Homo sapiens: one gene and its partners. The protein of the gene in region 1 purifies or fractionates together with the protein of each later gene. This does not show direct contact. Each region holds a gene or a part of one and is shown in the gene's direction. Other genes may lie near its edges.

Region 1 (4,390 bases):
TGCATGTATGTGTGTGTGTGCATGTGCATGCATGTATGTGTGTGCATGTACATGTGTGCATGTATGGGCATATGCATGCCTGTGTGTGCGCATATGTGCATGTACGTGTGTGCACGTGTATATGCATGTATATACATGGAGGTATATTTGTGTATGTACCCGCCTGTGCTTGTCTGGGTGAGATTTGGGATTTGTGTGCATATGTGTGAACTCTCAGAACCAGAAGCCACAGAATGACGCACTCTGATCCAACCCTGTTCCCCTAGGTCCAGTTTGAGGACTGAACTGGTGGGGGGCGGGGAGAGAGTAGTTTGGGGCTTTTTACAGCTCACCAGGTGTAACAGGACCCCTCCCAAAGGCCAGTTTGCTGCCCTAGCCAGGAATGGGAGTCAGGAGACTCTTCTTGGAGGCTGAGAAAGGTCCCAGAGTGGCACCTCCCTACCTGCAGGCAGATCCCAGGAAAGTCCCAAGCCTGGAAGGGCCTGTCTCCCTCGAGGCCAGAGTGGGACGGTTTGGGGGGCTGGGGCCCTCACCCAGCACTGGTGGGTGGGACAGCATGGGTGTGCAGGTGGGCGTGGATGAGTATGGGCATGGGAGGGGCCGGGCCTGTGCTAGGATTTGCCAGGAGGGCACTCCCAGGGCCTGGTCATGCCACCCTCAGAACTGCCTTTCTGTGCTGACATCTGCCCTGCAAGGTTGAGGCTGTGTCCCCTTTTCTCCAGAAGTGCAGCTGCCAAGGAGTCCCAGGCCCCGTGGTATACAGTGGGCTCATGGCGACACCCAGGCAGGCCCACGGGCTCTGCCCTCAGGCTCCCTCCCACCCTGTGGTGGGCACAGCCCCTGCTCTGGGCTGGCTCTGCGAAGAACCAGGGAGAGTGGGAAAGAATATATTGGGGGGGGCAGGGGTGCTGCCCCTCACCCAGGAGAAGGGATGTTCCAGGATCCCGCGGCACAGGCAACACAGCTCCTTGGTCCATTTGCAGGGACAGTAGAGGCCGGAATGTGAGGACCAAGCCTCTGTCCTCCCCACAGCAGGGCAGGTTTGCGGGAAGCGGGAGAGAAACAGTGGCAGGACAGGCTGTGCTGGGGTCCCAGGACTGCTGTGAAGCCCACCTCCCCCTGCCGCTCCTCTTCCCCCACTCCAGCTGCGCTGCTCACGATGTTGGGGGGCAAGCGGCAAGGGATGAGAGAGGGGCCTGGCCCTTTAAGCAGCGGCCCGCAGTCGGCCTTGGACCCTTGGCCGGGCGACTGCACTGCAAGTGGGTGGGGTGGCGGCCCCCGCCCTGGCGGGGAGTCCAGGGGTCATGGAGGTGGCGGGCAGAAGTGCGTCTGTGACTGTGGCCATAAGCGCTTGCAGGGTCTCCCAGGTGGCATGGGGCAGGCACATGTCCTGGTACACACGCCTTTTTTCAAGTCTGGGATTTCACTGTGAGTAACAGGTGAACTGCAGGCGCTGCCCCAGAAACCCCCGAGTCAGGGAGCAGGGATACTGGGAAGGCGCCTTTGGAGATGCCTGGGGGTAGGGGTGCCTCCCCAGGGCCCAAAGAGTGCTGGGACCTACAAAGGGTCCACTGAACCCCAACACCCCTCACTTATCACTCACCCCCAGAGCCTGGGTGGTTCTGAAATCCCTGGAGCCTCGGTCCCTGCTAGGCCTGGCATCCACAGTGGGGTGTGTAGGGACATCCACACTACCTGCTCCGCCTGGGGAGGTCCTGGGAAGCTTCCTGGGGAATTGCTGACATAGCTGTCGGTTCTCTGCACCTGTCCAGAGACTTTCCTGCCTTTACCTCCTCTGGGAGAGGTGGGAGGGTACTGATGGAATCCCCAGCACCTCCTCCTTTGGCCAGGCCCTGGAGAAAGCAGAGAGTAAGGCACAAAATCCCTGGGAGAGCCACAGGGAGGAGGAGAGGCAGCAGGTGGCAGAAGAGTCTGCAGAGAAGTGGTGCAGCCCTTCCGCCTCCCCGGGGCTGTCCTGCAGCGGGAACATCCAGGGCTACCCCAGCTCAGAACAGTGAGTGGAAGCCAGCTACAGTGCCCATCCCAGCCTCTGCTCAGGGGAACCTGCAAGCTGGGGCGTCGTTGGTGACAAGTCACCTACCTGCTTTCCCCTGTCCAGTCAGCAGGTTCCCACAGAAGAGACTGTTCCTCCAAGGCTGCTGCCTCAACCCACCCAGCCTGGAGCTTCCCCTATCTCCACAGTCCCCCAGCGTCACGCCCTTTTTAGGGACACGGGGAGCTGGCACAGCAGGTGTTCTGGTTGGGGGTTTGCACACACTCCCCTGTCCTCAGGAGTTATCCAGGGTGGCTCTACTCCACCCAGCAGGGGAGAATGGAGAGAGGAGGAGCCCTAGGCACTGGGGGCACGCGGGGCAGGCAGTGGGCACCTGCTACACATGTGGCACCAGCCTCTTCTGCAAACCAGGACAAAAAAGAGCCCTGGGGTTCCCAGGCCCTGAGCTCCCGCCGTCACTCCCCTGCCCCGTCCAATGGGATAGGGCAGGCCTCAGCCCAGCTGCCTCAGGCTCTGCACAAGCAGGAGCCGGCTTGCCATGGGGGCTTATGTTCTGGAAGGTGTCCTCGGGGTGGTGCTGGGCCATGCTGGCTTCACCCTCCCAAGAGCTGGCAGCCACCAGGTGGGTGCTGCCCAGTTTCTGGTCCACATCGGTGGTCGCCCCAGCCAGGTCAGGGACGGCCAGGTCCATTCTCACCATGTGTCTTCGTGCTCATTATCTTCTTGGAACCACATGATGCTGTGTGGCAGGCAGGAGGAGGAAGCTGAGACCAGAGCCATGGTGTGCACTACCCATGGTCACTGAGTCAGACATCCAGGGATTCACGTTCGGGTCCTTCCAGCTGGTGCAGGGCAGGGGACTTCCTCCCACCAGCCTGTGGCCTCGGACTTGGACGTGTGTGGAAGGCAGCAGCACACGCTGGTCACGTGTGCAGCGGGTGCCCACTGCCTGCTCTGCGTGCCCCCAGTGCCCCGGGCTTCTCCACTCTCCGTCCTCCCCTGCTGGGTGGAGTACAGCCATAACCAGACAGCAAATGCCCCGAGGGCTGTGCCAGGGTGATGTCATGCCTGGGGACGGGGAGGGCCTCTCGGAAGCCCTGGCCTCCTGGTCCTGGCACCCAAGCCCAGGCCTGGGGCTCCCAGCCAGCTGGAGGCAGGGAGGCATTGCATCAGTGCAGGGGAGGAGGAAGGCCCAGCCTGGCCCCAGGCCATGGGTATGGGAGATGGCCGGGCTCGTGAGGGCCTCTCCTCTGGGCTGTGTGACACACACCCTCAGCAGGAGACCCCTGTGGCCTCTGAGCCCACCCCTGCCTGGGCCCAGCGCGTGCCGTGATGGCCAGCCACCTCAACGCCACCTTTACGGGCATCCTAGCGGCGTCCTCAGCTGGGTCAGCCCCTAATTAGCATGAGGAGGAATGTGGGCGTAGGTGCAGGCTGTAAATGTGTGGCAGTACCCCCTCCCCCCACCGCGGGCAGAGCAGGTGCTCCGCCAGAGGCTTGCCGGCTGGGCTCAGGCTCGGGTCTGGGCTGGGTGTGACTGATCCTCAGCAGTAGATGGGGTGCCCTAGGCGGACAGGGCACCCTAGGCGGACAGGGAGCCCTAGGTGTTCTCTCAACCCACTTGACGGCCCTCCTCCTACAGGGGGCTTCGCCACCTTCTCCTCCTGCTTCCCCGGCCTCTGCGAGGGCAAGCCTGCTGCCCTGCTACCCATGAGCCTCTCCCAGCCCTGCCTGCCTGTGCCCAGCGTGGGCCTGACCCGCATCCTGCCTCACCTCTACCTGGGCTCGCAGAAGGACGTCCTAAACAAGGTGTGTGTGCAGTGGAGTTCGGGGGGTGGTCAATGGGAAAGGGGCAGGAGCTCCAGAAGCAGCTTGGCAGCGGAGCGGGGGATGAGGGAGGAAAGGAGCTGAAGGCAGTGGATGAGCTGGGTGTGGGAGAAGCATGGGTGGGGGCCCAGGAGGACCCCAGGCTCCCCACCCATGCCCCTGGAAGGACCACAGCAGGGCTTGCGGGAGGGCCCGGCAGGGCTCGGGGGAGGAGCGGGGAGCTGGCATGCCAAGCTGCGGATGTCACTGGGCCTCTGGCCAGCTCTGAAAGAATCCCATGTTTTAAAAATGGTGACGAGGGAAAAGGGTAAAAGCCACCACCCAGGCAATCATAAAATTCCTAGGAGCCCACCACCAGCCGTGGGTGGGGCCTGCAGTCGGAGGCCAGCCGTGCCCCACCCCCCGCACGGGCCCAGGGTGCCAGGGTGGACCAGAGAGGCCTCCTGGGCCCTCCCCTGGATACACTGGGATCTGGGACAAATTCCAAGGCTCCCAGGATTCTAAAGGCCCTCCTGACGGCAGGGCAGGAAAAGCCTCCACCTTCACTCC
Region 2 (4,390 bases), on another chromosome or scaffold:
GGGGTTTGTTTTGGAGTAATCTTGGGGAAACACTGGAACGTCCATAAGGTATTGTTCTTTATATCTAAGAGATGAACGTGTTCTTAATCATGGGATTGGCAGCAACTGTGAATTTTCTCTAGTCTCTGTTTTTGTTAGTCCATTTGTAATAGTGATGGGTGGATTTACCCCTGCCTTTCCATTGGTAATTCTGTAGAAGTAAAGGCTTAGGAAAATACTTTCTCTTTGTGAGGGTCCTTTGTCAAAGACTGAAAAGACTAGAGAGTGGCATTTAATTCTGCAGAGTATAGGTCATGGTACTTAGTTCCTATAGATAGGAGTTAGCAGTATATCCAAATACTTTATTCCTTAAGAAACGATTTTTTAGCCAGTGAATGCACTTTTAATTGGAAGGTCTTGGTTTTCTCAACTGTTTACTCCTAATAATTCAGAGCGTGATAAGGGATATTTTGGAGAAATGTATTCATTTTTTATTTAGGTTTAATCTTTTGGGTAAAGTAATAAATTGTATACATGGAGTATGGTTTACCAAGGGTTTAAAATTAATGTAAGAGTAATTCCAGTTTCCTCATATATACTGGGAATATATAGCTCTTTTATCCCTTTATTTTGAGAGAAGGAAGTATATTTCTGTACTCAAATTCAAATCTCTTTTTTCTATTAACTCACAGACTTTTTTTTTTTTCTTACAGTTTTCTGTATCCTCACCCATCAGGGCATGAGTAAATGTTTAAGGTTAAGGAAGCAGAAAGTTTTTAAGTCCTAGAAAAAAATATAATTGAAAAAAATAAATTTGAAAGAGTAGATTTGTGACATGAAAGAAACTATGACTTTATCAAGTGTTATTAAGATAAGCTTAGCCTTATGGCGATTTATTGTTCTCTTATTAGTAACTCCTACTCTCAGCAATGCTGATACAATTAGGTTATGACTGATCTCTTTTGTAAGCATAATTTAATTTCACTTCCACCCAGGAAGTGTTTTTCTTATAGTAAATGAAGGAGTTTTAGAATATAGATATAAGATAATTGTTAACTGGAGGGATAGAAGGAAAGCAGAGAATTAGATAAGTTATTTTTGACAATCCTTGTCTAGGAGACTATTGGATTGAAGGCCATGAAAAAAGAAAGAAAAATATAATTGGCCATTAAATATTTCTAGAGACCTGTTTTGCTGGGCATAGAAAAGCAAGCCCATGATGTTTTTTATTTTTAGTACCTAATTTTTCTTTTATCTTTATTGAAATCCTATTGTTCTTAATTGAAAGTCCTTCATTATTTTTATCTAATACTGAAATATAAAAATTAAATTCAGAATAATCAAAATGTTAAAAATAGTTGAGATGTCAAACCTGAAATATTCTCATTCAAAAATAAAAACCAAAAATTAATAAGGAGGCTCTTTGGCCATTATCATTTAGTCTCCAGGGTAATTGGTGAAAAGTAATCAAGTAAAAGTCATATGAATAATAGTAGTTCTCATTAATATGTTCTGGGCACTATACTCAGTCCTTAATATGCATTTCCTCAGTAATTCACATAAAACCAGATTTGATATGCACTTTTACTATTTTCATTGTTTTATAACAAAATTGATAGGCAATGGGGAACCCAGGTTTATCTGACACCCCCCCCCATCCGCCCCCAGAGCTAGAGAGAATAACAGCTTCTGGTTTCTAAGTACAGAGTCAGCTAACATATTGTATGCTTTGTTGCTTCACAAAATTCAATATAATAATAATGGCCAGAATGGAAATCTGTCCAGCCTCTTTTCCTTTTTTCTATTCTCATGTCTTTCAGAACTTTCAACAAGTTTACATAGCTTTTCATAGTTACCTTAATGTTTACTGGTAGCCAGTTCCTTTTAGTTGGCTAAATAAAAAGCCTTTAAAACCTAGGTTCAAAATCTAAACTCTTTATGAGCCAGTTGGATTAACTCATTTTGTGGTCAGAGCCTCTGTGCATTTTTGATTGATTACAAGAGGAACTAGTCATAGCTCAAGAGAATCGTCACATATTTATCACACCATTAGCGTTCACTGTAGTATGGTAACTGTTTTTAGAATTATGTCATGATCTGAAAAAGCTGTAACTATTATGTCAACCTGAGGAAACTTACCTGTTTTTGTGGGCTTTCTGTAATAGTGTTTATCTGTCATTTATGGCTTTCAAATTTAATACTGTGCAAGAGCCTGGTCTAGGCAATTATAGAAGATAGAAAGTTTTCCTTTGAAAGTTAAAATGTAGGAAAGTTGTTAAATTTTAGTCACAAATAAATGATACAGTAAAAACCATAAAGAAATAAAACAGGAGAGAGGCAAAAAGTGGAAAAAAAAAGTCATTTAAAGGGCTGAAGCAGACATACTTAGAAGGTACTTTTGATTAGACATACTTTTGAAAATCTAATTTTCTACTTTCTAGAGCTTATTTTTCTTATTGCCATAGGTTTTAAAATGTACTTCTATATTGTTTTCTTGCTCTTCTCTCCTCTGTTGTTTCTGTTATAGATGGGTATGTTTGTCACCTGTGCCTAGAAGAAATTCTTCCAGCATGGCCATTAGGATATAATGTTTGAGCTCACCTGATTTGGAGGGGGTAGTTGAAACTACCACTTCCTTTGTAACTGCAAGACCGTTTAGTTTTCAGACGTTATCTTTAATGTTAGCAAAGTATGTGTTTTATATAGTGTTTTCTGTATAAAAAACTATAATTTCTATTTACTAAGTTGAATCTATATGGAATAGTCCATAAAATAAACCTTACATACCAACTAGTTGGATGTAGTAGTGAAAATCATTCATGGATATTTCACTCTAGTTTGATATATAAATCTCTTGGATTTTCAACATAGAGTGGGGAAGAAATCCTAATTACAGTTCTCTTCCCATTTTAATTTCTCCTCTTTTTTTTTTTTTTTTTTTTTTTTTTGCTGTTTTTCTCAACTGTCAGTGGAATTATTGTCTTCCTGTCTCCATATTTAGGTAGTGTCAGTGGCTGAGTATCACCGCAGGATCGATGCTCTAAATACTGAAGAACTGCGCACACTCTGCAGACGCCTCCAGGTGCCCCCTTCAGTAGTTTAAACCCCTCCAGAGACTAAATACTCCCTGTTTTTAGTGTTCTTTGTCATGGCAAATCTCATTTGAAGAATTTGCTTTGACTGCAGCACTAAAATTAAATTCCTTTTTGTATTAAAGGTTATAGTATTGCCGTGAAGAGCTGTGGATTATCTTTTCTGTCATCTTTTCATTTGAAAAATATTCTGAAGAATGTTCTGTCACTTCAGAATTATTCTCAGTATTGTGTGTTTCTTTCAGCGATGAGGAGTTTTCATTCATTTAACGTTGGAAGAATGGTGTTGGTTTTGAGATTGAATCTTTTCTAAACAAAATCTGAAAGATATGGTACTATAGGAAAACTAATAAAAAATTTAATAGCAAGGCTTAAATATTTTATTTAAGGCTATTTCATTTATATCAGCGTCACATCAAATATCTCAATAGGATAAACTGTTCTTGAGGCATTCTTGGTTGGTATTAGGAGTACATTGGAATAGTACAGTTTAGACACAGAACTGGATAAATTACTTAAAATTCTGTGAAATAATCTTTGTGATTTTTTTTTTAGAAACAAGAAAGCAATGTAATTGAAAACTCATTTTTAAGTTGTGTCTATTATACTGTGTTTCTTTCTTCTTAATAAGATATGCTTTCATGGCTCTGCTAGACCTGAATTTTTTCTTTTAATGCTTCTAATGCTGCCTTGGGTTTCTTTTTCTTTTTCTTTTTACCTTTCACATCATCAAAATAAGGGTGAAACATGATGATATGAAAGAATGAGTATTTAGCTTCTTGTCAAAAAACAATACACTTATAGAACATGTATTGGTTGCAAATATATGCTGCTCAGGTTTGTTAAGAAACCTGTTAAAGGAACAAAATAATTTAGCAAGAATTTCATTCCCATATAGAATCACAGTTGCTGAGCGTTGCTGCATTTTAGTTATCTGCTCCAATAGAATTCTGCATATTTTCCAATTTAAAAGTTTCATAATGTTTCATTTCTTTTATTTTCTAATATTATTATGTTTTATATATTAAAATAAAATTAATATTAAAAAGTAAGCACCAATAGAATATATTGTGCAGTAGTAAGCTTTATTTTTACTTAGTTAACATTCTTATCGTTTTAAGAATACCAGTGAAATCATTTCCACCAAGCAAAAAAGCATGTATTCTTTGTAATGCAACACATTAATCTAATTTAAAAAATAAATTTATGAACAAATTAACAGTAAAATTTATTGTTTGGTCCAAGTAGATGAAAAAAATTAAATGTTTAGAAAGTTATAAAAAGAAAGCATTTAAAAAAATGGTAACGTTTGTCAGTGA
Region 3 (4,390 bases), on another chromosome or scaffold:
TATTGTGTTGTGTAATTGAAATTAAATAGTAATGAACATTCTTTTTACTTTCATTATTTATGTTCTCAAGATAAGATACATTGAGTATAATAAGGTTGCTCCGTAATGAATATAAAGTAGCCTTTCTGTGAAAGTTCTGACTTCTCAAATTCTAAGAATACAAATGAATGGCAGCAAAATCCTAGAGGGAGTTGGGATTTATTGTTTACCATGTAAAGTTTATGACATCAGTTGGAGGGTGTTTAGTTTTGCGTGTTGGCCCTTCCTGTTGTTTCTTTTTGGGTTGTAAGTTGGTTTACTCGGCGGATATATTTCCCCTTCTTCCCTCTCCCTTTCTTAATTCCTTTCTGTTCCTTCTACTGATACTGTCATCTAATTGCCTGGAATTTGCAGGGCTTTACAGGGTAAGGTATCTACCCCATTTCTTATTGCTAATTTAGAGATGGACGCAAATAGGTGGTAAATGCCAAAGGAAAGTCTAGGAGAAGAGTAGAAAACCAGGCTTCATTGTATATATAACCCTGTAAGAAACAGAACTTTGTGTTGAGGTCAATTTTAAGTATGTGCAATAACTAGGTAAGAATTTTTCTAGTGGACAAATTCACAGCACACTCAGAACTACAACCTAAGATTATATTTTATAGCAATAGCTTCATTAATGAGTGGAGGGAAATTTCTTTTTATTGGAAGTAATGGTCTGATTTAATGACTGAAACAAGCTAACATGTGTCTCAGCTTTTTCTGATTTTGACTGCTTTCTTCTGTAACAGAAAACACATTTCCTTGTGGCACCTTTTAGAAAACACTGAGTTATTCAACAGATCATTTGTGTGTGTGTTTGTGTGTGTGTGTATAGTTATTTCTTAAGAAATAATTTTGGATGTTTAGAAATTTCAAAAATAAGAGATTCTCATATAGCTTTCACCCAGTTTCCCCCATTGATAGTGTCTTAACTAGTCCAATGATTACCTCTTAAGTAGTCTGTGGTATAATTTTCAAAATCAGGGTATTAACACCAACAGATACTTTTTAAGGACTGAAGTATATCTAGTTGGTATTTAAGGTATTTAAGCATCTGCTTCACACTTTATTTGAAAGATGTATGTGTTTCTTTTAGGACTGACTCCAATAGATTTTGAGGCTGAGGTTTATATGTAGCTGAAAGCTTTAAAAAATATATAATCACTTTAAATGTAGTATCTTACTTAATTCTAACAGCCCTGCATAACAGGCAGCCCCTTAGTATTCCTCCCATTTTGCAGGCTCAGAAAAGTTAAGCTCAAGATTATCCCTCAGTTCTCATTGTCTAGGACTAAAATCTAGGTCTTCTCAGTTGGGTCCAGTTATTCTGTTAACCCGTTGTCTACTTGTTGCATACTGCTTGTTGTTGCATTTTCTAACAATGGAAACAGTCTTTGCCGACATGAGTATCTAGTAGTTATTTGATATTATAGTGAATGAGCAGGGAGGTTAGATTACTCATCTCTCAGTAGTTCATCTGCCATCTCCAGGTGTTAAAAGTTTTTCTGAGATTAAAGATCAAGGCTTTTTAGTGTTACAGTTACCATGTTTTTTCTAAACTCAACACCTTAGATATTCAAGATGATACTCTTCCTGTCCTGTTTTTGTAAGAAATTAATATACTTGTCAGATTCCTGTGTATTGCAAGCTGGAGACTGTAGATAAGGGCAAGTCACTTAACCTATCTGACCCAGCTTGCTTATCTACAAAATAGAGATTAAAACCTCTGTTCTCATCCTTCCTGGGAGTCAGCATTAGGATTAATTAAATCCATATTTCCCAGGCTCTTAACTTACCATGGCACGCATTTTTTGTTTTACCTGGCTACTAGTGAAAATGTACAAAGATAGAAGGATATCTAGTAGAAGGAAGGTGGATAGGATTTTCAAAACAATATATTTGGCCCTGAAAAAAAACTATGTGTTGGTGTTGTGTGTGTTGTTTTGTTTTGAGGAGGAATGGGCAGGGAGAAAGTCGGTTTACAAGTGAAGAGAAAGCGTAGAAAAACAGTGGATGTTAGTTTCTCAGCTATTTTGACAAAAGGGATGTAGAGAGCAGTATTGGGAGGAACATTTAGATTAGTACTAATGTGTCCTAATACATACTGATGGGGAAATTTTGAATTGGGTTTTTTGAAAACTGTAGCTCTTTTGTCCAACACAGTAGCTGCTAGCCACATGTTACCTGTTGAGCACTTGAAATATGACTAGTCTGCATTGAGATGATGTGCTATGTGAAATATATGCTACAGTTTGAAGAGTTAGTATGAAAAAAAGAATATAAAATATCTTCATTTTTTTTGTTGGTTTTTTTTTTTTTTTAAGAGAGAGTCTTGCTGTGTCACCCAGGCTGGAATGCAGTGGCACTGTCATGGCTCAGTGTAGCCTCAACCTCCTGGACTCAAGCAGTCCTCTACCCCAACCTTCCGAGTAGCTGGTACTGCAGGCATGTGCCACCACGCCCAGCTAATTATTATTATTTTTTTTTCATAGAGATGGGCTCTCACTATGTTGCCCAGGCTGGTCTCACACTTCTGGCCTCAAGCAATCCTCCTACTTGGCCTCCCAAAGTGCTGGGATTATAGGTGTGAGCCCCCATGCCCGGCCTCTGTTGGTTTCAAGTCAATATGATACTATATTTGATATATCAGGTTAAATAAAATGTATTATTAAACTGCATTTCACCTGATTCTTTTTAGTAATGTAGTTACTAGGAAGTTTTAAATTATATATGTGACTCACATTTGAGGCTGTCATTATATTTTCATTGGATAGTCAACAGAGCTGCTCCTATAGCTACTAGGTTGTCTAGTTATTTTCTAATTATTTGTGTGCCAAGATCTTGATGCCTTTGGTCTTTGGAGCAATCTTGGCAGTACCCCGAGCCCCTGGGCCAGTAGCCTCTCTCGCTGCAAGCAGCTCTGTTTACTCCAGTGTGCCCTACAAATACTATTATTTGCTAGGTGTATGGGATGTGGGCATTGAACTTTAGATCATCAAGTGTAGTACTTTAAACATTTAGAAATTACTTACTGTTATTGCCTATTAAAATAATCTTACTTTTTTGATGGGAGAGTATGGAGTGGCATGGATGATTATTTATATTTTCAGGCTATTTATACTCTGAAAGATACTAAGTACTTTAGAAAAAGTCACATTTTTAACATTTATTAAAATCTTAGTTACAAAAGATTTCTTAGGCATCCTTTAAAAAATTTCATTTTTAGAATTGTTCGTACTGTCTCTGCAACTTTTCTGAAAACATAAAAGTTCTGTATACTTTTCATCTAGTTTCTGTTATCAACATGAAGAATCTGCTTTTAATCTAATTTTGTATAGCATATCAAAAGTTTACACTTTATTGAGTTATTTTGCTCAAAAGAAATCCCCAGATTTTACATTATGGTAACTGACTCAGTTTTTAGAAATGTGAATTTTGTTATTGACCTATATACCAGAAAGACACTTATTGCATACCTGAAATTCAGTAACCTAAACTGTTTGCTAAGATGTTCCATATACATGGTCACAAAGTTTACATATTCTCGACATAATTGAAACATGTTGATTAATTACTTCTGCCTTTTTTTACTTCATAGATGTAAAGAACCTATATCCATCATCATCTCCTTATACAAGAAATTGGGATAAATTGGTTGGTGAGATCAAAGAAGAAGAAAAGAATGAAAAGTTGGAGGGAGATGCAGCTTTAAACAGATTATTTCAGCAGATCTATTCAGATGGTTCTGATGAAGTGAAACGTGCCATGAACAAATCCTTTGTAAGAATATAAACTTAAAGAAATATATATGGGAGCAAATTTTACATATTTTAAACGAGAAAATTGGTAATGTGAGACCAAATTGCGTGTACTATAGCTGGGAGAACTTTTTGAATAAGGTCTGTCTGAACGTTTCTTTTTGCTCTAAGAGTAATTTTTGAGGAAGTTGAAAACTTATGGAAGAGATGAGAAACAAGTGGTTTATCTTAAATAGGTATTTTTTATCAGTGAGTTAGATTGATATGGAGTCATCTCACTTGGATTTATCCCAGTAGCTGAGTGAACTTCTGTTGTTTCCCTTCTAGACTCATATGTAGCCTCAGTGTTAGAGATGAAGAATATAGATACGAAACTTTTCAGAATAGTGTTTGCAAGTAGAAGGTGCACGTTATTCATTGGTTTAACAACTCTCTTGATTAAGAAAATTCAGGCTTTTTGTCAGGGCAGCATAAATACCTAAATTAGACCTCAAAATTTTAGTAATAATTCGTCATTGTATATTTAGCTTGCAGTTGTAATCATGTGACTTTTATTAATACCAGTAGCTCTGGAAATATGACTCTTTTAAGACATATTTACAGTAGAAAGT
Region 4 (4,390 bases), on another chromosome or scaffold:
AAGGTTTAAAATATTTGCATTCCTACAGTTATTGGTCTATATTTATTCTTTATTTATTTATCATTAGTTCTTTTATCATCGTTTCTCCATTCTTGAATTTAAATTTTGATTCATTCTTGGTATGGCTAGGTTTTGTCATCCAGCCATTTTTTGTTTGTTTTTTTTAAAGAACGCCTTATGGATATTGTAGCTTGAATTCTTGCCATGCGAGAATCCCTATCCATTGCCTTTTAACTTAGCTGAGTTTCTTTCTTTCCCTCACGATTCTGTAGACATTTTTCTATTGTAGCATTGAGCATGGCTGAGAACTCTGAGATCACATTGGGTTTTTTTCTTTCTTCTTTGCTTGAAAGATTGCTCTTCTACCTCAGTATCCATATTTTGGCTTTTGCTGATGTATTGTTTTACTATTTTTCTGTTCCATATGTTCCTTTCTTTAGAAACTTAGCTATCTTTCTGGTTATTTATATTGCTATGTTCTGTTCTGTTTAGTGTTGTGTGAGTTCCTCAAATCTGTGTTCCTTACCATGTCTCCGTGGTTTTGTTTTTCTGCTGCTATTTTGCTTCCAGTGTGGGTGTTGCCTTTAATTTTTACATTTTTTTAATGAAATATTTCTAACGTACACTGAAGTAGAGAGAATAGTGTAATGACTCTCCAGGTACCTATTGTCTGCCTTCAACAACTATCATTTCATGGCCAATTTTGTTTAATGTATACCTCATACGTTTTACTACCTTTTTTACACTCTGGATTATTTTGAAGTAAATACCAGACTTCATCATCTCTTGTAAATATTTTACCATGTGTCTTTAAAAGATGGGTGTTTTTTTTTTCTTTCACATAACCACAGTGCTAATCCACTCCTCAATAATTAGGAATAATTCCTTAATATCATCAAATTTTCTCTTAATGTTCACAGTTCTCCAATTGTCTTTTGTTTGTTTAATACTCAGTTCAGTGCAGAGTTGTTACTTTTGTAAAATAAGATTAAAATGTCATAGCAGGCCAGGTGTGGTGGCTCATGCCTATAATCCTAGCACTTTGGGAGGCCGAGCAGGCAGATCACCTGAGGTCAGGAATTCGAGAACAGCCTGGCCAACATGGTGAAACCCTGTCTCTACTAGAAATACATAAATTAGCCGGGTGTGTTGGTGCACGCCTCAAGTCCCAGCTACTCGAGAGGCTAAGGCAAGAGAATCGCTTGAATCCAGGAGGCAGAGGTTGCAGTGAGCCGAGATCGCGCCACTGCACTCCAGCCTGGGCGACAGAGCAAGACTCTGTCTCAAAAAATAAATAAATAAATAAATAAAATGTCATAGCAGTGCCAAATAACTATAAAATTTTTTGAGGCCGGGTGCAGTGGGTCACGCCTGTAATCCTAACACTTTGGGAGGACAAGGTAGGCAGATCCCTTGAGCCCAGGAGTTCAAGACCAGCCTGGCCAACACTGCGAAACACTGCCTCGTGGTGGCGTGTGCCTGTAATCCCAGCCTCTCAGGAGGTTGAGGCATGAGAATCACTTGAAGTGGGGAGGTGGGAGGTGGAGGTTGCAGTGACCCAAGATCATGCCACTGCACTCCAGCCTGGGCGACAGAGGAGTGAGACTCTGTCAAAAAAATAAAAAAATTCATGGCATATTCATGCCATTAGATTTCATCACTTTAGTTAGAAGATAATAATAAGCTAAGCTTATTATAGCCTTTAGTTACTTGGGGACAACTACACTTCATTGAAAGTCTAAGGTACTAACATTGGTTAGTTCCCAGCACCCTCCTCTTTCTTACCCAGATTTCACAGTATTTGGTAAGTGTTTTTATAGATTAGAGTTGTGGAAGTTTATTTCTATGAAGATAGCATTTTTCTCTCTTTTTTAATCTGGAGAGTTTCTTGTGAAACTCTTGAATGCCTTTTATTTTGTCTTTTTTTTTTTTTTGAGACAAGAGTCTCACTCTGTCACCCAGGCTGGAGTGCAGTGGTGCAATCGCGGCTCACTGCAACCTCCACCTTCCAGGCTTCAAGCAATTCTTGTGTCTCAGTCTCCCGAGTAGGTGGGAGTACAGATGCCTGCCAGCACGCACAGCTAACTTTTGTGTTTTTAGTACAGACAGGGTTTTACCATGTTGGCCAGGCTGGTCTAGAACTCCTGACTTCAAGAGCTCCACCGCGCCTGGCCTACTTTGTCATATTTAATAAAGAATGTTTTACTTCAAAAAATTTATACATGTTGGAACTTTTGTGGTTTGCATTAAAAGACAAAGCAGAGGCTGGGCACAGTGGCTCACACCTGTAATCCCAGCACTTCGGGAGGTTGAGGCAGGAGGACTGCATGAACCCAGGAGTTCAAGATCAACCTGAGCAAGACAGACCCTATCTCTACTAAAGAAATATTCTAAAAATTAGCTGGGCATGGTGGCACACGCCTATAATCCTAGCTACTTGGAAGGCTGAGGCAAGAGGATTGATTGAGCCCAGAAGTTCAAGGTTGTAATGACCTGTGATAGCTCCAGCTTGGGTGACAGGGAGATTCCCGTCTTCTTAAAAAATTTTTTTCAGCCGGGCTTGGTAGCTCTGTAATCGCAGCACTTTGGGAGGCTGAGGCAGGTGGATCACTTGAGGCCAGGAGTTCGAGACCAGCCTGGCTAACTTGGCAAAACCCCGTCTCTACTAAAAATACAATAATTAGCTGGGCATGGTGGCACCCACCTGTAATCCCAGCTACTTTGGAGGCTGAGGCACGAAAATTGCTTGAACCTGGGATTTGGAGGTTGCAATGAACCAAGATCATACCACTGCGCTCCAGCCTAGGAGACAGTGAAACTCCACCTCAAAAAAAAAAAAAAATCTAATTTCTTACAGTTCTGTATTATTGATTTATTTTGTACTAGAGGTATTGCTTAACAAAATAGTTGCATTCTATTAAAATACGTCTTGAAGCAGGCCGGGTTCAGTGGCTCATGCCTATAATCCCAGCACTTCGGGAAGCCGAGGCGAGCAGATCACTTGAGGTCAGGAGTTCCAGACCATCCTGGCCAACATAGTGAAACCCCATCTCTACTAAAAATACAAAAATTAGCTGGGCGTGGTGGCTCACACCAAAAGTCCCAGCTCCTCGGGAGGCTGAGGCAGGAGAATCACTTGAACCCAGGAGGTAGAGGTTGCAGTGAGCCGAAAGTGCGCCACTGCGCTCCAGCCTGGGCGACAGACACTCTGTCTCAAAAACAAAAACAAACAAACAAAAAAATCTTGAAGCAAAATTACATTAACTGAATCCATAATAAAAATAAGTTTTCTTGCAAAATTATAAAACTATAAGTCAATCAATCTTTGTCATTTCTAAAGGTAGTAAAATCATTGTTGTGCCAATGTAGAGGCTTCTCATTTTAAGGTCGTTGAGAAAAGAAAACTTTTTGCTGCTTTATTTTCTTGAAAGTTACTCTGAAACAAAAGATACAGATTATAAACTCCATATTTGATGGAATTAGGTGACATATTTAATCCTTAACCTAATTTATTAATACAATGTGGTAAATGACTGCATGCCTGTGACCAGGGCAGCCAACCAGATTGGAGCAGGTTAAAGCTCCAATAAAGCTGTTCAGAAAGATAAATTGGTAAACCTAATGTAAATGTAAATGTATTAAGAGGTGATTTATAGGAGATGATGCAGGAGAATCGCTTGAACTTGGGAGGCAGAGGTTGCAGTGAGCCAAGATTGGGCCACTGCACTCCATCCTGGGCAACAGAGTGAGACTCTGTGTCAAAAAAATAAATAAAAAGAAGAGGTGATTTGGACAACTAGCAACAAGTTTAGGATAGAGTTGTCACTAGAAAGCTAAGCAAAGGAGAAAAAAATCCAAAAAATTGTGCAGCAAAGAAGTCATATTTTATGGCTCAACTCTGAATAGCACACTAATCTAACCAAAATTAAGGTTAAACTACACTGAAAGGATACAATGTGTGAGTATATATTGTGGGGGATAGAGAGGTAGGAGAGCTAAATTCTGCTGTCCCATAATAGAAGTCAGTGGATAATACCTAAAACTGGAAAGTGAAGACTAAGTACAGTGAGTTACTTAATAAAATAGATGTGAATCAAAAGAATCAGCTAAAAGAATTAAAAGTGGGGCCCTCTGGATAAAGGAAATGAGGGAGAGGGCTGCTATTTGCCTTAAAAAACTTGTGGATCAGCTGGGCGCGGTGGCTCACACCTGTAATCCCAGCACTTTGGGAGGCCGAGGCGGGTGGATCACGAGGTTAGGAGATCGAGACCATCCTGGCTGACATGGTGAAACCCTGTCTCTACTAAAAATACAAAAAATTAGCTGGGCATGGTGGCGGCACCTGTAGTCCCAGCTACTCGGGAGGCTAAGGCAGGAGAATGGCGTGAAC
Region 5 (4,390 bases), on another chromosome or scaffold:
GATAAATGGTATGATGGTCCTTTTGTTTTTAGGATTCCAAGCATAAAAGAACGGACAGATCAATTTTATGTTGTTTACGAAAAGGAGAATCTGGCCAGTCATGGCCAAGGTTAACAAAAGAAAGGGCAAAGGTAGGTTTCATTTTCCTTTTTTGAAAAGTTTGATATTTTTATTTTAGGTAATAAAAGATGTACTTATTTGATGTAAGGAATATGGCTGTGTTTTTGTTTCACAGCTAAGTATAAAGCCTCATGTTCATGTTTTTTGTCTACTCAGTTTTAATACGAAGTGTGATCAGAATATCAGTTATTAACTGGTGTAGAATCTTTTGTACTTAAGAGACAGACTTTGCATAAATTACTCAGCTATCACATGGGAGGGGACAAAGCTTGGTGAAAAAATAATCAACTGAAAATAGTTCTTACTAGTAAATTTGTTTTCAAAAGGTATGTTTAACAATTTTCAGTGTTTTTTTTCCCCCAAAACAGGGTCTCTCTTTGTCACCCAGGCTGGAGTGCAGTGGCACGATCTTGGCTCACTGCAGCCTCAGTTTCCCAGGCTCCAAGTGATCCTCCCTCCTCAGTCCCCCAAGTAGCTGGGACTGTAGGGGCATGCCACAACACCTGGCTAATTTTTGTATTTTTTGTAGAAAGGGGTATCACAGTGTTGCCCAGCTTGGTCTTGAACTTCTGGGCTCAAGCAGTCTCCCCACCTCAGCCTCCCAAAGTGCTGGGACTACAGGCATGAGCCACGACACCAGCCTAGTCTTTTTTTTTAGGTAGTCTCATGCCACTCATGCCAGAGTGCACTGGTGTGAACATGGCTCACTGTAGCCTCCACCTGGGCTTAAGCGATCCTCCCACCCACCTCACCTCTCCAAATAGCTAGGATTGTAGGAATGTGCCACCACGCCCAGGAAATTTGTTTTTTTGTTTTTTCCCCAGATACAGGATCCACTATTGCTCAGGCTGTCTCGAACTCCTGAAGGATTACACAACTAGTCTTTCCACCTTGGCCACCCAAAGTGTTGGGGTTACAGGTGTGAGCCACCTCATTTAGCTTAGTCTATTCTTTGTGTGCTAATTACATGCCCTCCTAAAAATACAAAGTCACAGTTCAAAAAATATTGTTTTGCCAGGCACCAGTAGCATGTGCCTGTTGTAGTTAAAAGCTACTCTGGAGGGTGAAGTGGGAGAAATACTTGCGCCCAAGTCTGGGTTGCATTGCCATATGTCAGGTAACCACGCTAAGTTAACATCAGTACGGTGTTGTCCCAGGAAGCGGGGACCACCAGGTTGCCTGAAGAGGGTAAACAAGACCCTTGGTCAGAAACGGAGCTGGTCAAAACTCACATATTGATCAATAGTGGGATTGCACCTGTGAATGCTTGCTGCACTCCAGCCTGGGCAACATAGCAAGACCTGGTCTCTTTAGAAGAAAAGAAAACGTAGTCTTAAGGTTCATGCCAAATGCAAATTAGCCTAATCTTAGGGTGATATTTGTATTGATTTATAGCTTAATTGGCTTAGTGTCGACTTCAATAATTGGAAAGACTGGGAAGATGATTCAGATGAAGACATGTCTAATTTTGATCGTTTCTCTGAGGTAAGTTCCTTTAAATGGACCTCTCCCCATTCGAAGCACACGGTACCTGTCTATGTAGTCAATTTAATATGGTTTTGGGCACCTAATGGTATTCATGATGCATGTTATTTTATTTTTAAGACCATTTTGCAGTCATAGTAAATAGATGTTAACAATGGCAATTTTAATCCTGAAGTTGAACCATTTTAATGATTTTAAAAGGAATTAGTGTTAGCTACAAAAGTTACAAAAGTTAATGCATTAAGACAAACTAACACAGCTAGTTTGCTAATTTCATCATTGGGACTTTTTTTTTTTTTTTTTTTAAAGCATGATTGCAGTAGTTGACTTGGATTTTGAAGTCATAAAATAAGACTATAAACTTTTGGCCGGGCACGGTGCTCACACCTGTAATCCCAGCACTTTGGGAGGCCAAGGCTGGCAGATCACGAGGTCAGGAGATCTAGATCATACGGGCCAACTTGGTGAAACCTCATCTCTACTAAAATACAAAAAAAATTAGCTGGGCATGGTGGCGCGCACCTGTGGTCCCACCTACTCCTGAGGCTGAAACGGGAATTGCTTGAACGCTGGAGGCAGAGGATGCAGTGAGCCGAGATCGTGCCACTGGACTCCAGCCTGGCGAAAGAGCGGGACTCGGTCAAATAAATAAATAAATGCAGAACGATAAACTGTTAAACACAAGAATCATAGGCTGGGCGCGGTGGCTCACGCCTGTAATCCCAGCACTTTGGGAGGCTGAGATGGGCGGATCACCTGAGGTCAGGAGTTCAAGACCAGCCTGACCAACATGGTGAAACCCCGTCTCTACTAAAATACAAAAATTAGCCGGGTGCAGTGGCGGGCGCCTGTAATCTCAGCTACTCAGAAGGCTGAGGCAGGAGAATCGCGTGAACCCAGAAGGCGTGAACAAAATTAGCTGGGCGTAGTGGTGCATGCCTGTGATTCCAGCTACTCGGGAGGCCGAGGCAGGAAAATCACTTGAACCCGGGAGGTGGAGGTTGCGGTGAGCCGAGATCGCTATTGCACTCCAGTCTGGGCAACAAGAGCAAAACGCCGTCTCTAAATTAATAAATAATTAAATAAAACTACAAAAAAATAGCTAGGCGTGGTAGTGCACGCCTGTAATCCCAGCTACTCCGGAGGCTAAGGCAGGAGAATTGCTTGAACCCAGGAGGTAGAGGTTGCAGTGAGCCGAGATCACACCACTGCACTCCAGCCTGGGCGACAGAGCAAGACTCTGTCTCCAAAAAAAAAAAAAAAAAAATTCATGGTGAAATGTTTACCATGAGATATACAAGGAAAAAAGTTTAAGAAAGTCTGTTTTCTAAGATGTCACCCAAATAACGTTGCCATGGCCCAAGAATAAATGATTCATCTCTATATAGGCAGAATAGACTTTATCAAATGTAGTAGAATAAAACTAAGTACAGAAAGAACATTAGTGTATAAGTCGAATGCATACTGATGAAATCCATTTCTTGTTGCTATTTGAAATTTTTCATTAACTAGATTTTGTATTTTGAGACCTTAAGAGTTAAATAAAAGGAGCTAAGTTTCCAGCTTTATGCAACTGCTTATTTAACAGTTCTCCACACGTGACTCTGGCATGGTGATTTCAACAGGAAGGGAGGATGTTCTATTCATATTATTTTTTAATTGTACTTTCCTTACCTGTAGAAATCGGTGCCACCATTTACCTAGCTGTGCAAGCCATTGTGTTGCTTAGGCAGGTCTTGAACTCCTGAGCTCAAGTGATCCTCCTGCCTCAGCTTCCCAAAGTGCTGGGACTACAGGCCTGAGCCACCACCCCCAGCCTTATAACACTGTTTTTGTTTTTTGTTTTTTGTTTTATTTTGCTATCTTTGTTGTCCAGTTTTTGTTGTTATCTCTTACATATCTCTTGAATATGTACAGTTTTCTCTTGCTGTTTATCTTAAGCACGTAGCGTTATGCTTGGTACATTTAGCATTTTTCCTGCCCAAAGAAACTTAAAGTATTGAGTAGTGCTTTTGGAGGTAGGGAAACTCCCAGTTACTCATTTCATTCAAGATAGATTGCCCAAAATTTTTATACTGAATCCTTTTTTGTGTGTGTTTAATTAATTGAGGTAAGAGCACTTCACATGAAATCTACTCTTTTAACAGACTATTTATTTATTTTTTTGAGGCAGAGTTTTGCTCTTGTTGCCCAGGATGTAGTGCAATGGCACGATCTTGGCTCACTCCAGCCTCCACCTCCTGGGTTCAAGCAATTCTCCTGCCTCAGCCTCCCAAGTAGCTGGGATTACGGGTGCCCACCACCATGCCCGGCTAATTTTTGTATTTTTAGTGGAGACAGGGTTTCACCATGTTGGGCAGGCTAGCCTCGAACTCCTGACCTCAGGTGATCCACCCGCCTTGGCCTCCCAAAGTTCTGGGATTACAGGCATGAGTCACCAGACCTGGCCACGCCCAGCTATCTTTTAAGTGCATGATACAGTATTGTTAACTATAGGCATAATGCTGTACAGTAGTAGGTCTCTGGAACTATGCATTTTGTGTAATTGGAATTTGATACCTATTTAACAGTAGCAACTCTGCATTTTCCTTCCCCCCAGCTCCTGGCATCTACCATTCTACTCTCTATTTTTGTGTGTCTGACTATCTTAGGTATCTTACATAATCTTAGGTATCTCATATAAGTGGAATCATGCAGTATTTGTCCTGTGACTGGCTTATTTCACATAGCATGACGTGCTTCAGATTCTTCATTGTGTTTTGTCACATAAGGCAGATTTTTTTCT
Region 6 (4,390 bases), on another chromosome or scaffold:
CCCTCAAGTTATGATGGAAAGAGCAGGGCATTGTTGATTTCTTTTTGGGAGATAAAGTAACCATTCTTCAGGCCCAGGGATTGTAGGGGATTGGCAAAGGCTCCAGGGAGTTGATTTAGTTTTAGAAGTTGGGTTTTGCCGGGCTCAGTGGCTCACGTTCGTAATCCCAGTACTTTGGGAGGCCAAGGCGGGCGGATCATGAGGTCAGGAGATTGAGACCATCCTGGTTAACATGGGGAAACCCTGTCTCCACTAAAAATACAAAAAATTAGCCGGGCATGGTAGCGGGCGCCTGTAGTCCCAGGTGCTTGGGAGGCTGAGGCAGGCGAATGGCATGAACCTGGGAGGCGGAGCTTGCAGTGAGCCGAGATCGCGCCACTGCACTCCAGCCTTGGCGACAGAGTGAGACTCTGTCTCAAAAAAAAAAAAAAAAGTTGGGTTTATTAATTCACAGTAATTCATGCTACTGGGGAGGACTGGATGGAGAGTATGTCCCTCCCATAGAATAATTCTCTTACTAAGTAAGGGGACTGGGAGGGAGCCGAATCTTTACCTCTGTGTTTACTCTTGTAATCCCCTGTGGTCCTGTCAGATCTGAGCATCCTCAAGGTGCTTTCCTGGGCTTCATTCTTGACATTAGAAGTAGGGAAAGGCCAAGCATAAGGAAGTGTCCCAGATGAAATGTCATTCAGTACTTCAGGAATGGAAGCAACACTCCCAATTTTTTTTTCTTTTTTTTTTTTTTTGAGATGGAGTCTCACTCTGTCACCCAGGCTGGAGTGCAGTGGCGTGATCTCGGCTCACTGCAACCTCTGCCTCCCAGGTTCAAGCGATTCTCCTGCCTCAGCCTCCCGAGTAGAGTAGCTGCAATTATAGGCACGTGCCACCACGCCTGGCTAATTTTTGTATTTTTAGTGGAGACAGGGTTTTACCATGTTGGCCAGGCTGGTCTTGAACTCCTGACCTCAAATGATCCACCTACCTTGGCCTCCCAAAGTGCTGGGATTATAGGCATGAGCCACTTAGACCAGTTTTTTTTTGACTTCTAGTCCTTGTTTTTTCCCTTCTGTAGAACAGGAAGCACCCAGGCAGGAGGACTGCATGAGTCGAGTTCAAGACAAGCTTGGGCAACACAGTGAGACCCTGTCTCTGCAAAAAATAAAAAAATTAGCCAGGTGTGGTGGTGCATACCTGTAGTCTCAGCTACTTGGGAGGCTGAGGTAGGAAGATTGCTTGAGCCCAGGAGGTTGAGGCTGCAGTGAGCTGTGATCATGCTACTGCACTCCAGCCTAGGTGACATAGCAAGACCCTGTCTCAAAAAACAAAACAAAACAAAAAACAGGAAGCTTCTGCCATTTACCCTCTCCTCCCTTTCCACCTTCCCACTAGCCCTCTGTTCTCTGTTACCCGTGTAGATGGGTAATAGAAGAGATATAAGTTACTTTTCCTGAAAACATCCAGGGCTCTGAACTTCATTCCCCCAGCAGCTCCCAAGTGAACCCAGTACAGACAGCCATCCAGACCAGAACAGCAGGCACTCTCAGCCCTGCAAAATCAGCAGGGTGAATGGCTCAGATTTCCTCAGGAAGGGGATGATTTATTTCTTATCCAGGTGAATGAATAGTAATTCATTCGGGTAATCTAGTGAAAGACTCAAACTGACAGATGTGACAGGCCACATGCACCAACCAACGGATCTGAGGCTGGTGTATGCAGACCCTGCCCCCTCTTTGGGCTTCTTTTCAGGGCCTGAGCAGAGCTGGTAAGGGATAGGGAGAAGAGGGAACAGAGAATGTCTCAGGAGGTTTGTCAGAGCTTGAGTACAAATAAGGTTTGCATTGAACCCCTCTCACCTCCGGCCACCTCCAGACTGAGTCTTAGCTCTGTTTATATTGTTTTTTTCCACCCACTGATGTCAGTGTTTATGAGCAATGTTATGAGCAGCATCATGGCAGGTAGGAAAGAAATAATAGCGTGGATAATCAACCCCTGAATAGTCAGAAATTGACTGTGTTATTTGAATCTCTTTCCATACATTCCTTATTCAGCAAACGAGTAGAAAGGGGTTTTGAGTGAACTAGCTAAAAAGTTCTTCACCTTATTTACTTCTTTGTGTGGTTGGTGGAGATGTTTATTGGTCTAGTTTAGGTTCCTCAATTGAGACAAGGTCCTAGGATTTCTTTCACATACAAGTTGGTTATTCTCTTCTCTTCTCTTGGGGACTCAGGAAAAATGTAGAAAAGCGAGCACTGCTGGAGAACATGGAGGGGCTGTTCTTGGCTGTGGATGAAATTGTAGATGGAGGGTAAGTTCTCTGACCTGCCTTGATCTTGGGTGAGGTGGCGGGATAACTGCCCCTGTCCTAAGTCAAGCAGGCTCAGTGGCCAGAGGTCCTGTTCCCCGACAGTGAGTTGGGCCTTCGGGACAGAGTGAACAATGATCTCTTCTTTGTTTTTGCAGGGTGATCCTAGAGAGTGATCCCCAGCAGGTGGTACACCGGGTGGCATTAAGGGTAAGCAAGAATGTGTTTCTTTGCATCCCCGCATCTATTCACAAACACCCTCCAGAGCCAGACCTGCTGGATGTGTCCAGTAGTTGGGGCTCATAGGATACATACAACCTTCTCTTTTTCTTTCAAATACATTCAGCCTTTCTCTTCCCTTCTCTTCTTATTGTCCCAAAGAAAGAAGCAGAAATAACTTATTTCTACCCCTAATATGGTGCCTAACATCTCATACAGTCTTTGCACAAAGTGGACATTTAATACATACTTATTTAATAAATGATAAAATAAACTTTAATATTTATGGTTTTGAAATTATAAAGCAACTTGAAGTTGGCTTATTCCCTTCTTGGAGATGGATCCAGTCATCTGAGGCAGAGGAGTGTCTGTTTTGTCTTTTAAAGTGTTACATAGGACTGAGCGTGGTGGCTCACACCTGTAATCCCAGCACTTTGGGAAGCCGAGGCTGGCGGATCACAAGGTCAGGAGTTCGAGACCAGCCTGACCAACATGGTGAAACCCTGTCTCTACTAAAGACACAAAAATTAGCTGGGCATGGTGGTGCGTGCCTGTGATCCCAGCTACTCAGGAGGCTAAGGCAGGAGAATTGCTTGAGCCCGGGAGGTGGAGGTTGCAGTGAGCCGAGATTGCACCACTGCACTCCAGCCTGGGCGACAGAGTGAGACTCTGTCTCAAAAAAAATAAATAAATAAAATAATAATAATAAAGTGTTACATAACTGAGGATGGTACCTCTCCATTAGGAAGTACTTATTTGCCAGAACCTCAGTCCTCTTTGGTGCTGGTGATATCAGAAAGGGGCCTCTGAGTTAACCATAGAAGGCCCCAGGTCAGCTGAGGAGATAATGGTGGATGCAGAGAGAGCCCACCAACAAATTATACGGGTGCAAAGATGTCTGAGCAAAGCAAATCTCCCCATTCACAGAATGTCCTGGCTCTGACCTCCACAGAGTGAAGGCTGACAGTGCTTGGTAATGGGAAATCTCTCTTAACTGCTGTGGGCTCCATTTGCATAGTTTAATCTTCTCCTCTAACATATGTCTCTGTGTGGCAAGAGAGAGGGTCCCCCCCATCAACTCCCCGCTTTGTCTTCTTAGGCTGCTGTTGCAGCAGTTTATTTCTTCAAATTAACATGCTGTCGTTACCCATCAGGCTTTGCGGGATCCATTAAACCACTCCTGGCTCCCCCTCATCCTTTCCCTAGTGATACTGATATTCAGAAAAGGCCTTTTCTGACTAGGGAATCAGGTCCTCCACCCCCACGTTAAGGGAGTTGAGGATCAGATAACCTGCTGGTTACTCTGAATGGAGTTAAATCTTTTAAGAAGTCCTCCTGCCTTAAAATGGAAGCTGGATGAAATGACCCTTTTTTGTTCATAGTCCCTCTGGCCAAGTAAAATTGTAGCTGTACTAGTCCCTAGAAGGGACTGAGAAGTTCAGTGCATCTGCCCTTTGTTTCAGTTTAAAGGATCACTTTTTTCTTCTCTAATACCAGACTCCAATCAGGTCTTACTCCAGCTTTCTCCCACACTAAATGCTTGTATCTCTGTGCCATAGGGTGAAGATGTCCCCCTTACGGAGCAGACCGTGTCTCAGGTATGACTCTCCCTTCTTCCTTTCCAGATGGACTGGGTCACTAAAGAGGCTAGAACAGCATTCCACCCATACCTCTCAAATCTGAGTGAAACTAGAGACTCAAGACACATCTTCCTTGGCTCCCTCTTATTCCAGAGAACTGGGACTCATACAGCCAGCCACTCCCTACCCCTACTTCCAACTCCTTTCTCAGTTACCTGTGAGCAGTGGCTGTCAGCCTTGCTCTGTACCCTTCAAACCCTCCCTGCCTGCCTGATGCCTCATTCAGTGA
Region 7 (3,928 bases), on another chromosome or scaffold:
TTTCTTCCAGTAGTTTTATAACTACATTTTATATTAAAATCTTTATCTGGCATTAAATGTGGTCTTTGATGTGTGGAATAGATCAGTTGAACCTCTTTTCAAACAGATGGCTTGTTGTGTAAATATAATTTGTTGAAGAGCCCAGACCTTTCTCCACTTACTTAAAATGCATCTCTAGATACACATATGGGTCTATTTATGGACTCATCAGTTTTACTTATTTTTCTATTTATACACTAGAACCATAGTTTTAATTAATAGAGCTTTATAATGTGTGTTGATATTTCTTATAGTCTTCTCTCATTCTTTTAAAAAGTTTCTGGTCTCTTTTCACACATTAATATTTTTCCAGATGAATTTGAGAATGAAATTGTCAGGTTCTTTAATAAGTCCTATTTGGATTTTGAGTATAATTGAATGGGAATTTATGGATTAATTTGAGGAGAATTAACATTTTAATTATTAAGTCTTTGAGTGGTAAAGGGAACGTTGTTACTGTGATGGGAGCTTTTTTCACTTTAAATTTAAACTGTTTATTGCTGCTACAGTAGTCTTCCCTAATCAGCAGATAGGTTCCAAGACCCTCAGTAGATGCCTGAAACTGAGCGTAGTACTGAACCCTATATATACTGCTTTTTCCTATAAATATATACTATGATAAAGTTTAATTAACAACTAATAAAATGGAACAGTTACAACAATTTCAGGGTTCGAAGATTCATTCTTATTATCCATGTTAGCACTCTCGCCATATGATTTTTTTTCCTCATTAAGTCAATAACTTTTACCTTTTCACTTGAAGGAAGCACTTTATGGCTTCTCTTTGGCATAACTGAGTTGCCAGCATCACTACCCTTGTGCTTTGGGGCTATTCTTGGTAAAGTAAGGGTTACTTGGACACAAGCACAGTGATGCCACACAGTCTGATAACCAGAATGGCTACTAAGTGACTAACAGGCAGGTAGCCTGTACAGCATGGATACACTGGACAAAGGGAGGATTCACATCCTAGACAGGATGGAATGGATAGCGTAAGAATTCATTATGCTGCTCAGAATGGTTTGCAGTTTGAACCTTATGGATTGTTTACTTCTGGAGTTTTTCATTTAATATTTTTGGTCTGTAGTTGACTTCAGGTAACTGTAGATAAAGCCAGGTACTACTATATATCAGAAAGTGAGTGGTTTTTATAGTGTAGCTACCCACATTGCTAGGTTATTATTTCTGTTAGGTTTTCAGTTGATTCTCTTTTCTAAAGATATATCTATGTAGAATTAAAAACTTCTCTTTCTAGTATTTTTACTTCATTCTTTTATTGTGTTGTATACATTAACATGCCAGTGAAAGTAGGCATTCTCATCTGTTCCTTCCTTCCACAGGATGTCTCAAGTGTTTCAGCATTAATTATAATAGAATGATACTTGTTTTCGATTAAAAAATACTTATATCACGTTTGGGACATTTTCTTCTATTTTTAATTTCCTAAGGGTTTTTTTTTTTTCAGTCGAGAGGATTTTGAATCTTCTTAGATTTTTTTGTGTCAAATAATTATTTATTTTAGTATTGACTATTAATTAGAAAGGAAATCTGAATACAGATGTGCTTGGAGTGGAAGGAAGATCTACCTTACCTGGGAATAGGAAAATAGCTTTGAGATTTGGAAAGTGAAAAAGTTGAGAAGAGTGTTTCAGGCCTAGTTTGCAATATAAAGATACAAGAGTGTGTGATGCCTTTGAAGAATGGTTAGAGTTCACTGCAGTTATGAGAAAATGTGAAATGTGAATTTGGGAGAAGTGAGTTGGGATGGAGAGTGATAGGGGTCAGATCGTAAAGGCCCTTATTTTTCTTGCTAAGGAGTTTTGTTTTATTCTGAAGACAATGGGAAGTCATTAAAGAGTTAATGGTCAAAAGTGATGTTAGATTTGAAAGTAGCCTGGCGGGGGAACAAAGTGCATTTTATCTAATTAGAAGAGACCAAATAGGAGGTATTTGCAGTCATTTCTGCAAGAGACATTGGCTTGGACTAGGGTGATTTAGTAGTATGGGGGAGATGTGAGTGAGTTTGAGAGAGACATATGATGCAGTGTCAACAGGATTTGGTCATTGATTGGTGTAATGAGTAAGGGAGAGGGAGGTGCAAGTATAATCTCATTTTTGGCATGAGAGGTAGGTAGTGTTGGTCATTGAAATTGAGGATATGGGAGTAGAACTGGTGATAGGTTTAGTTTCAGATAATATTGAATTTGAGGAGCATGTAGGTCATTTAAGTGGAGATACCTGTTAAGCATTTGGGTTGGGAAATCAAGAAAAGGTCTTGGTTTACGATCACAGCTTTGGAAGTAATTAACTTGTAGGCAGTAATGGAAGTTAGAGGAGTGTGTGGGATTACTTTGGAAGAATGTGTAGAGTGAGAAGAAGGCCTGGGCACTCTTAAATGTCACACACTGACATTTAAGGGTAAGCAAAAGGAAAAGGGTCCATGAATAAAACCCCGAAGGACCCACTGAAAAAACCGATGGAAAACTGTGAGGGGGTGGCATGGAAACCAAGGGGGAAGATAGTTATAAGTACATTGGAGTGGTCAGCAGTGTCAGATGTAGTGAGATACTATAGTGAGTTCAAATGAGGTCTAAAAAGTGTCCTCTGAATTAAGCAACTAGGCAGTCATTAGAGATAGCAAGCATTATTTCTTTTAAACATTACCTGAAGAGAAGGAAACTGGTCATAAAAGAGGTGTTGGTTTTGGGTTTGGTGGGCATGTTAAAAAACATAGTAACTATAGCATTTCTATATTTGACCAAAAAGCAGCAGTAGGCACAGTGCAGTAAAAAAAGGAAAAGAAAAGAAAGAATGATAGGCATAGCTAGGAAACAAGAATGGAATGCAGAGCACACGTGCTGGGATTAAGCTGGGATGGGACAGATAGATGGAAGGATGGGTGTGCATAGGTTGTTTTATTTATACTGGAGTGTATTGGAGGCGTTAGTTTATTTTCTCGGGAGAAAGATCACTAGCAATATTTCAATTCATTCAAGGTGTTTGGGAGTACTGAGTATGAAATACAAAGCTGGGAAACAGAATAGATGTTATCAAGCCAGCTGTTAGGGTGGCATCAGAATCCTGCCCTTTTAAAACAGGTGCAGTTTTTAATAAATTATTTTCATTGTTCTTTTAAAACACGTGAAATAATGTGGTGAGTGGATGGTATACATTTGATTATTATTTTCTAGAGATGCCTACATTTCTTAATGATAGAGCTATAGTTATGAAAAGGCAATGTGGCAAAAGTACTATTAAACTATGGCTCATTATAATAAGAAAATGAAGTTTGGAAAATCGTATATAGAATTTGTGTTAATCCATTCTTGCACTGATGTAAAGAAATACATGAGACTGGGTAGTTTATAAAGAAAAGATGTTTAATTGGCTCACGATTCTGCAGGCCATACAGGAAGGATAGCAGCTTCTGCTTCTGGGGAGGCCTCAGGAAACTTATAATCATGGTGGAATGGGAAGCAGGCACGGCTTATATTGCCAGAGCAAGCAGAAGCGGGGTGTGGGGGAGGTGCTACACACTTTTAAACAACCATATCTGGTGAGAACTCTATCACGAGAATAGCACCAAAGAGGGAAATCCACTCCCATGATCTAGTCACTTTCCACCATGCCCTACGTCCAACTTTGGGGACTACAATTTGGTGACATGAGATTTGGGTGGGGACACAGATCCAAACCATATTAGTTGTTATTTGAAGAGGAATAGTGTAGATTTGAGAAGTATGAAAGTAGATGTCAAATCTTTTCTCTCATCCTAAAACCTTTTTTTTTTGATACTAGGTAAAAGCTGCTGAAACATGTCAAGAGCCGAAGGAATTCAGATTGCCGAAAGACCATCATTTTGATATGATAAATATTAAGAGCATTCCCA

What was found.
Region 2: the proteins of DUSP8 (region 1) and OXR1 purify together in Homo sapiens (affinity purification with mass spectrometry, with the first as the bait; one large-scale study listed by BioGRID). This does not show direct contact.
Region 3: the proteins of DUSP8 (region 1) and SUGT1 purify together in Homo sapiens (affinity purification with mass spectrometry, with the first as the bait; one large-scale study listed by BioGRID). This does not show direct contact.
Region 4: the proteins of DUSP8 (region 1) and FBXO11 purify together in Homo sapiens (affinity purification with mass spectrometry, with the first as the bait; one large-scale study listed by BioGRID). This does not show direct contact.
Region 5: the proteins of DUSP8 (region 1) and PTGES3 purify together in Homo sapiens (affinity purification with mass spectrometry, with the first as the bait; one large-scale study listed by BioGRID). This does not show direct contact.
Region 6: the proteins of DUSP8 (region 1) and COPZ1 purify together in Homo sapiens (affinity purification with mass spectrometry, with the first as the bait; one large-scale study listed by BioGRID). This does not show direct contact.
Region 7: the proteins of DUSP8 (region 1) and NDUFAF4 purify together in Homo sapiens (affinity purification with mass spectrometry, with the first as the bait; one large-scale study listed by BioGRID). This does not show direct contact.

The regions. Positions count from the first base shown.
Region 1 is NC_000011.10:1,558,322-1,562,711, reverse strand, and holds part of DUSP8 (dual specificity protein phosphatase 8), read left to right. Parts: intron 1-3,656; coding exon 3,657-3,823; intron 3,824-4,390. UniProt on the Homo sapiens protein: Has phosphatase activity with synthetic phosphatase substrates and negatively regulates mitogen-activated protein kinase activity, presumably by catalysing their dephosphorylation.
Region 2 is NC_000008.11:106,734,540-106,738,929, forward strand, and holds part of OXR1 (oxidation resistance protein 1), read left to right. Parts: intron 1-2,980; coding exon 2,981-3,061; intron 3,062-4,390. UniProt on the Homo sapiens protein: May be involved in protection from oxidative damage.
Region 3 is NC_000013.11:52,676,355-52,680,744, forward strand, and holds part of SUGT1 (protein SGT1 homolog), read left to right. Parts: intron 1-3,619; coding exon 3,620-3,801; intron 3,802-4,390. UniProt on the Homo sapiens protein: May play a role in ubiquitination and subsequent proteasomal degradation of target proteins.
Region 4 is NC_000002.12:47,826,154-47,830,543, reverse strand, and holds part of FBXO11 (F-box only protein 11), read left to right. Parts: intron 1-4,390. UniProt on the Homo sapiens protein: Substrate recognition component of a SCF (SKP1-CUL1-F-box protein) E3 ubiquitin-protein ligase complex which mediates the ubiquitination and subsequent proteasomal degradation of target proteins, such as DTL/CDT2, BCL6, SNAI1 and PRDM1/BLIMP1.
Region 5 is NC_000012.12:56,667,490-56,671,879, reverse strand, and holds part of PTGES3 (prostaglandin E synthase 3), read left to right. Parts: intron 1-32; coding exon 33-131; intron 132-1,515; coding exon 1,516-1,605; intron 1,606-4,390. UniProt on the Homo sapiens protein: Cytosolic prostaglandin synthase that catalyzes the oxidoreduction of prostaglandin endoperoxide H2 (PGH2) to prostaglandin E2 (PGE2).
Region 6 is NC_000012.12:54,345,540-54,349,929, forward strand, and holds part of COPZ1 (coatomer subunit zeta-1), read left to right. Parts: intron 1-2,227; coding exon 2,228-2,305; intron 2,306-2,460; coding exon 2,461-2,512; intron 2,513-4,080; coding exon 4,081-4,119; intron 4,120-4,390. UniProt on the Homo sapiens protein: The coatomer is a cytosolic protein complex that binds to dilysine motifs and reversibly associates with Golgi non-clathrin-coated vesicles, which further mediate biosynthetic protein transport from the ER, via the Golgi up to the trans Golgi network.
Region 7 is NC_000006.12:96,891,301-96,895,228, reverse strand, and holds part of NDUFAF4 (NADH dehydrogenase [ubiquinone] 1 alpha subcomplex assembly factor 4), read left to right. Parts: intron 1-3,837; coding exon 3,838-3,928. UniProt on the Homo sapiens protein: Involved in the assembly of mitochondrial NADH:ubiquinone oxidoreductase complex (complex I). May be involved in cell proliferation and survival of hormone-dependent tumor cells. May be a regulator of breast tumor cell invasion.